Homo sapiens: one gene and its partner. The protein of the gene in region 1 purifies or fractionates together with the protein of each later gene. This does not show direct contact. Each region holds a gene or a part of one and is shown on either strand. Other genes may lie near its edges.

Evidence for each region. Proteins that work in one complex are often made in the same cells at the same time.
Region 2: the proteins of PLTP (region 1) and RAP1B purify together in Homo sapiens (affinity purification with mass spectrometry; 2 studies listed by BioGRID and IntAct, with this or other methods). This does not show direct contact.

What each region holds. Positions count from the first base shown.
Region 1 is NC_000020.11:45,909,356-45,913,570, reverse strand, and holds the start of PLTP (phospholipid transfer protein isoform a precursor), read left to right. Parts: upstream 1-1,415; 5' UTR 1,416-1,492; intron 1,493-2,107; 5' UTR 2,108-2,118; coding exon 2,119-2,218; intron 2,219-2,319; coding exon 2,320-2,419; intron 2,420-2,576; exon of another isoform or gene 2,577-2,700; intron 2,701-3,500; coding exon 3,501-3,629; intron 3,630-3,899; coding exon 3,900-4,055; intron 4,056-4,215. UniProt on the Homo sapiens protein: Mediates the transfer of phospholipids and free cholesterol from triglyceride-rich lipoproteins (low density lipoproteins or LDL and very low density lipoproteins or VLDL) into high-density lipoproteins (HDL) as well as the exchange of phospholipids between triglyceride-rich lipoproteins themselves.
Region 2 is NC_000012.12:68,648,899-68,652,398, reverse strand, and holds part of RAP1B (ras-related protein Rap-1b isoform 1 precursor), read right to left. Parts: intron 2,000-3,500; coding exon 1,931-1,999; intron 405-1,930; coding exon 348-404; intron 1-347. UniProt on the Homo sapiens protein: GTP-binding protein that possesses intrinsic GTPase activity. Contributes to the polarizing activity of KRIT1 and CDH5 in the establishment and maintenance of correct endothelial cell polarity and vascular lumen.

The DNA of each region.
Region 1 (4,215 bases):
CTTGGGAGGCTGAGGCAGGAGAATCACTTGAACCCAGGAGGCAGAGGTTGCAGTGAGCCAAGATCACACCACCGCACTGCAGCCTGGTGACAGAGCACGACTGTGTCTCAAAAAAATTAATTAATTAATTAAATAAAAAAGGAAATGGAACTATTTTTGTGAATCTGTGGATTATATCAGAAAAAAAAGACACAATGGGGAAAGTCCTAGGCAAATCAGGATGAGTTAGTCATCCTTCCTAGATGAGTGTTTGGTGCTAAATACATGCTCAGCAGACATGATTATTGCTTCCCCTTTCTTTCGTCCATTTGGCAACAAAAAGGTGGCAAGCACCCACTCTGTGCCCTGTCCTAGGGTCCGGGAACCCTGTAAGCAGTAGATGGAGGTGGGGGTGGGGGTGGGGGCGGGGATGCTGTTCAGAGCACCTTGCTCCAAGGGTTCATTAAAAAATCCACCAGTGGACCGGGCGCGGTGGCTCATGCCTTTAATCCCAGCACTTTGGGAGGCCGAGGCGGGCGGATCACAAGGTCAGGAGATCGAGACCATCCTGGCTAACACGGTGAAACCCCGTCTCTACTAAAAATACAAAAAAAATTAGCCGGGCGTGGCAGCGTGCGCCTGTAGCCCCAGCTGCTGGGGAGGCTGAGGCAGGAGAATGGCGTGAACCCGGGAGGCGGGGCTTGCAGGGAGCCGAGATCGCGCCACTGCACTCCAGCCTGGGGGACAGAGCGAGACTCCGTCTCAAAAAATAAAAATAAAAAAAATAGAAAAAACAATCCACCAGCCACGATAAATGGCAGACCTCCTTCTGATTTCAGCCGGTGTGGTATGTTCCTGGGCTGACAGCACTTGTCTAGTCTTGCTTTCCCAAGTGGGAAAGGTCTCTGGGACCTTAAGGTCCCCAGGTGGTGACACAGAGACAGGTAGGGGGGCCCATAGCAAAGCCAGGCAAGGAGGTCCCGAGATGATTGTGGGTGGCAGGGAAAGAAAAAATATTCCTTGACTTTGTGCCTGGACCTGGTTGTAATAAAGGCCCAAGAGGTAGTTCCTATCATCGTGCACATTTCGCTGAAGGAAGAAACTGAGGGTCAGTGACCCAAGTGAAGTGACTTGCCCAAGATCATGCAGGAAGACATGGATAATTGTAATTTGAACCAAGGTCCCAGCAAAGTGGGATTGTTGGGGCTGAGTGGGCCGGCTCCTGCATTTCCTTCCCTCTCCCTGGGCTTGGGTCTCCCACTTGTCCAGACAGCGGCCGGGCTTGTCACGGGGCTCTGTGCAGCCTTTTCCACTCTCCCGGCTGCCAGCGTCCCGCCCCGTCCCCTCCCAGCCCCCAAGGGAGGAGGGGAGAGCTGCAGAGAGGAGGAGGGGTCGGGGAGGCCGGCTTTATAAAGGCGGCTGGAACAACCCTGCCCGCCAGACCCCGTCGCCCGGATCCCCTGAGCTGCCCGCCATCCCACGTGACCGCGCCGCCCCCCAGCTCCACCGCTGAGTGAGTTGGGGCGCGTCCCTATCCCGTTCCCAGTCCCTCGCCGAGCCGCGTGGTGCACTGAAGCCGGCGTGGGGAGGAGAGCCGATGAAGGAGAACGCTAACATGGGGGCTCCAGGCAGAATCTCTAATGGGAGAGATTTAGGACCTGAGGGAGCCGGGAGACCCGGGAGCCCACGGTCTGGTCGGCCACCTCCTCTCCTCCCCGGGCGCGAGGCCTAGGAGACCGCAAGCCACCCTCCAAGAATGCGCGTGCAGTCGTTGCCGTGGCAACGTGCAAGCCTGCATGGGCCCACCGCTAAAGGAAAGGGGAGGTTGTTGGGGGTGTGGGGGCTGGTCCCCTGGAGGTCCAAACTCATCACGCGGCGGTAGCACGAGGGAACTGGGAACGTCCCCTCCCCCGTGTCCCAAATCCTCTGGGAGCCAGAACGCAAGTCGCATCGCCTCTCTGAGCCTCAGTTTCCACATCTGCCATATGGAGGCAAGATTATTGGTTCCAAGTTCCCCGAAGAGTTATCTGGAGGGTAACGATCCAGGCTAGTTCCCACTTATGGTTGGACGTCCAAGGAATGGGTTTAAGCGGCTCAGATAACTCCTGCGACCCCACCCCACCCCCAGGCCCGCTCGCCATGGCCCTCTTCGGGGCCCTCTTCCTAGCGCTGCTGGCAGGCGCACATGCAGAGTTCCCAGGCTGCAAGATCCGCGTCACCTCCAAGGCGCTGGAGCTGGGTAAGGCGCAGGGGCAGACAGGGACGGACGGGAGCGGACGGGGTTGGGGTCGCCCCAACAGTGGGCACGGGAGCTAAGTAAGGGTTTCTCTGCTGCTTCAGTGAAGCAGGAGGGGCTGCGCTTTCTGGAGCAAGAGCTGGAGACTATCACCATTCCGGACCTGCGGGGCAAAGAAGGCCACTTCTACTACAACATCTCTGAGTAAGTGGGGGGCGGGGCCTCGCGATCCGGGGCGGGGCCTCGGCGGTGGAGGCGGGGCCCGAGAAATCTCAGGGTCTCGGGAGACTGGAGGCTGAGTGGGATGGGGCGTGGCCAAATCGATGAGGCAAGACTTAAGAAACCGGATGGGGCCGAAAAGATAAAGGCCAAGCCAGTCATCATAGGCGGGACCAGGCAGATGGGCGTGGCCTTGAAAATGTAGAGGGGGCCAAGAAGGAAGCAGGACCAGTGGATGTGAGGCGTGGTCGAAGAACAACAGAAAGGTGGAGTCAAGGAACTTCCCAATAGATGAGAGTGGAGTCTCGGGCACGGGGTGGAGTTAATCGGAGGGGTGGAGAAACTGAAGGCTCTAAGTATGGTTTAGGATGAGGGAGGGGGAATAAGGAATTGAGATGTGAGACGGAGCTTAGGTGATGGAGGCAAAGTGAACGGACTCTATTAAAAGACCGGGTGTAGCAACCCCAGGGTGTGGGAGGGGAGGGGGTGCAAGCAAACAAGACTTTTTTTTTTTTTTTTTCTGAGAGGGAGTCTTGTTCTGTTGCCCAGGCTAGAGTGCAGTGGCGCGATCTTGGCTCACTGCAACCTCCGCATCCCGAGTTCAAGCGATTTTCCTGCCTCAGCCTCCCGAGTAGCTAGGACTACAGGCGCGTGCCACCACGGTCTGCTAAGTTTTGTATTTTTGGTAGAGACGGGTTTCACTATGTTGGCCAGACTGGTCTCGAACTCCTGACCTCAAGTGATCCGCCCTCCTCGGCCTCCTAAAGTGCTGGGATTACAGGCATGAGCCACCACCGCACCTGGCAAACAAACAAACAAGACTTTTAAGCGATGGGGTGAAGCTCATTTTTAACACCTGGATCAGGAAGACCTCCTCTCTCAGCCACCCAAGTTCAACTTTGAGCCACCCAAGTCTAAGTTGGGCACTTGAGGGACAATGGAAGAATTCATTCCACCCACTCCCGCTTCCCCAGGCCTGGACTTGAAAGGGGAGCAGACAAATTTCCTGTCGTTGGGGGAAGTTCCCTCTTCTTGGCCCTGGATCTGACCCTGAGGCCTCCTGTAGGGTGAAGGTCACAGAGCTGCAACTGACATCTTCCGAGCTCGATTTCCAGCCACAGCAGGAGCTGATGCTTCAAATCACCAATGCCTCCTTGGGGCTGCGCTTCCGGAGACAGCTGCTCTACTGGTTCTTGTAAGGACCCAGCACCCTCAGGGGAGTGGAGAGTGGGTCAGGAGGGCTGGAGGTGCTGTGGGGCTGTGGGCAGCCCCCTTAGCCTTCCTGAGTTTCCGTTTCTTCATCTGTGTAACAGAAACAGGCATATGCATTTCATACGAGTTGATAGGAAGGTTTGGTAGGATGTGTGGAAAGAGGTGAAACCTTATTAAGAGGTATGGTGATGCATGGGGGCACTGAAGACTCAATTGAGCTCCTACCTGGAGTGAATATTAACCCCCCTGGCAGCTATGATGGGGGCTACATCAACGCCTCAGCTGAGGGTGTGTCCATCCGCACTGGTCTGGAGCTCTCCCGGGATCCCGCTGGACGGATGAAAGTGTCCAATGTCTCCTGCCAGGCCTCTGTCTCCAGAATGCACGCGGCCTTCGGGGGAACCTTCAAGTAAGCCCCAGCCCCAACCCCAGCTCACCCTTTTCGAGCCCCACAGCTCATCTGCCTAGCGCAATGCAAAGTGCATAGGCCTGGGAATCAGACCAACTGGGTCCAAAGCTCAGCTCTGTCACTTCCTGGCTGTGTGAACGTGGCCAAGTCACTGAAGCTT
Region 2 (3,500 bases), on another chromosome or scaffold:
TCTTGGCTCACTGCAACCTCTGCCTCCTGGGTTCAAGAGATTCTCCTGCCTCAGCCTCCTGAGTAGCTGGGATTACAGGCTCCCACCACCACACCTGGCTAATTTTTGTATTTTTAGTAGAGATGGGGTTTCACTATGTTGGCCAGGCTGGTCTCGAACTCCTGACCTCAAGTGATCCAGCAACCTTGACCTCCCGAAGTGCTGGGAATAGAGGTGTGAGCCACTACAACCGGCTGCAAGCAGTACTTTTAAATAAGCTTAACTAATATTTGTCTATAGAGTACTAGCATTTATGAAGTCAATACTGTACAAACGGTGTATATACTTTGGTATTTAGTTTTACCTACCGTTCCTGCAGTATCCAAGATTTCAAGCATACACTGTTGTGCATCTACTTCAACTTGCTGGTAGAAAAATTAAAATACATGTTCATTTTTTCAATGTACATAAAACTACCTTAATATACACAAAAAAGCTAATGTATCAAAAATAAGACACACAGATTTTAACAACTTTACAAACTAATATCCAGCAATACTTCAACAAAGCAGGAGGAAAAATAGCTAAGTAATCAAGATTCAAAGACCCCCAAATTGTAATCAAGTTCAAAAGCCATGTGTTCTCAAGTCAACACAGGGAAACCTACACGAACCAGTCTCAATATGGATTCTCAGCACTTAATTCTAGAGAAAAAAATAGTTTCGAAATAGCTCAAATAAACAAACAAAACCAGCAACAGTTCCAACAGTATCATAAGTAATTCTGTCTAAATTCTCCCATGATACTTTAGATATACCTCATTTCTCTAGGTAACTATATGCCCTCACCATACTGGAACAAGATTTCTGGAATTAAGGAAGCAGTGGCACAGCTATTAAATAAATTACACATATATCCCTGTTACCCCTTTCCATCTAATATTTCCTAGGGAAAAATAGGTATTTAGAATTAGATGTAGAAAGAAAAGAGTAATACTGTCTCACAGCTGGGGTGCAAAAGTTTCCAGTTTTTTTTTTGGTAGACTATGCACATGGAGGGAGGAATGGAAACACAGTATTTGTGCAACAGCGGGGCCAGGTTGGCTGCTTCATAGAGGTTGGGAAATACCTCTTTCCCTACTAAGTTAAAAATGTCTACACATTGTTTTATTGTCACATGCTGTTAGTGGACACAGGAATTCACCTTTCTATAGGCTGAGCATCCCTAATCTAAAAATCCAAAACTTGCAATGTTCCAAATCCAAAAGTTTTTGAGCCATGTGTGGAACATCACGCTACAAGTGGAAAATTCCACACATGAGCTCATGTGACCAGTCACAGTCAAAATGCAGCCAAAACTTTGTATCATGCATAAGAATATTAAAAATATTATGTAAGATTATGTGTATGAGGTGTATATGAAACCATGAATTGTTTAGATGTGGGTCCCATTCTATTTCATTATGTATATACAAATATTCTAAAATCAGAAAATAATCTGAAATCTGAAATACTTCTGGTCCCAGTTATTTCAGATAAGGGATATTCAACCAGTATTGTGAGTGGTGGCACTTTCTCAAGAGGTTAGTAAGTAGAAAGCTTAGGAAGACCTGTGTCCACCTATTTCTAGGTTAAAAAGAAGGGAGCTTGAGAGTAATCAGTCTTGCTAGGTAGGGGACTGAAAGTAACATGGGGCTACTACTTGAAATGGATGGTCTGCTTTAAAGTTTATGTGTCAAATTACAAAAAATTCTGTGAATATGTGAGAGTATGGGTGTTTATGATCCTCTTAAACTGGTAACTATGCAATGCCAGAAAGTGTAAACTTTTCCCACTAATTTTATAAATTAACTCTGCCTCCATCCTTTGTATAAAACATTCAATAATTATAAAGCTAAAATAAGTATTTATATTAAAATCAAAAGCAAAAGGCCTTCCAAAGTAATATATACCTTTCTATAAGAATCTTCTATCGTAGGATCGTATTTTTCTACAAAAATTCCTTGAACAAATTGTACAGTCTGAAAAAAAAATTAAGAAACCATTATACTTCTAAAGAAAAGAGTACATTCAATCTTTAATGTAATTGTAAACTGAGTTCACACAGGGAGTTACACCATCAATGAAAAAAAAAACCACAGCCAATACTACATTCGAATGTGTACATTTGGTAAGAAAATTACCTCAGGAAGCTGTTTATTTTTAAATAAATAATCACTATGCTCCTTATTGGGTAATTCTAAATTTAGAGATCATATATTAAAAAATTTTAAATGTCTCTGGTTTCAGTCCTTTGTTTTTTTTCTTTGAGACAGAGTCTTGCTCTGTCTCCCAGGCTGAAGTGCAGTGACGCAATTTTGGCTCACTGCAACCTCTGCCTCCCGGGTTCAGGCCATTCTCCCACATCAGCCTCCCGAGTAGCTGGGATTACAGGCATGCACCACCACACCTGGCTAATTTTTATATTTTTAGTAGAGACGGGGTTTCACTATATTGGCCAGGCTGCTCTCGAACTCCTGACCTCAGGTGATCCGCCCACCTCAGCCTCCCAAAGTGCTGGGATTACAGGCGTGAGCCACTGTGCCGGCATTGTTTCAGTCTTAAGAGCTTAAATTTGATTTTTAAATTAGAAATTGACTAATTGTTATGTATACACACATACATGCAGGATCAACTGACCTCCCCATCACTTTGGATACAAATGAAAAAGCAGTTCATTTCACATTGTATGTACTTCTCAGTTTGTTCCAAGCATGACACTTCTCAGCTAGGTGGCCTTTCTAAGTGGCCAAGATGGTTTATCTTATGAGTGAGACAGAAGGTCAATCTATTTGCTTGTGAGGCTTTGCTAAGCTCTGAACTATTCATCAAATTATTTTCCCTACGTTTTTCCTCTTTCCCAACCCTCATTACCCAGTTATGTCTTCATTCTTGCTATACCATTCCTTGATGCAGAAAACGTGCCGTTAAAAAATGTAAAGCTGGACAGTCAAAGGTAATATTTGAAGACTTTTTATAAGCTTTGATATTTTCTAACATAAAATGTACAGGGTAAGACTATTCATAAGAAGAAAGAGCAAGCCAGGCATGGTGATTTATGCCTGTAATTCCAGCACTTTGGGAGGCAAAGGTGGATTACTTGAGGCCAGGAGTTTAAGACCAGCCTAAGCAATATAGCAAGACGCCATCTCTACAAAAAATTTTAAAAATTAGCCTGGCATGGTGGCACGTGCCTGTAGTCCCAAGCATTCAGGAGGCTGAGATCACTTGAGCCCTAGCCTGGGCAACAGAGTGAGACCCTGTTTCAAAAAAATAAATAAATAAAAAGACCAAAATTTATTCCTATCTGGCTCTGAAATGCGAATGCAAAAAGACATGTATTTGTACGCTCTCAATCTCTGTGCTTAGCTCAAATTGTATTCCAGCATAACTCGTGTCATTCTGGAGTCAATGTTCCAGAGAGAATATGATCCACCCAGATATAATTAAAAGTTGAATAAAATTACAAGAAAAATATTATAT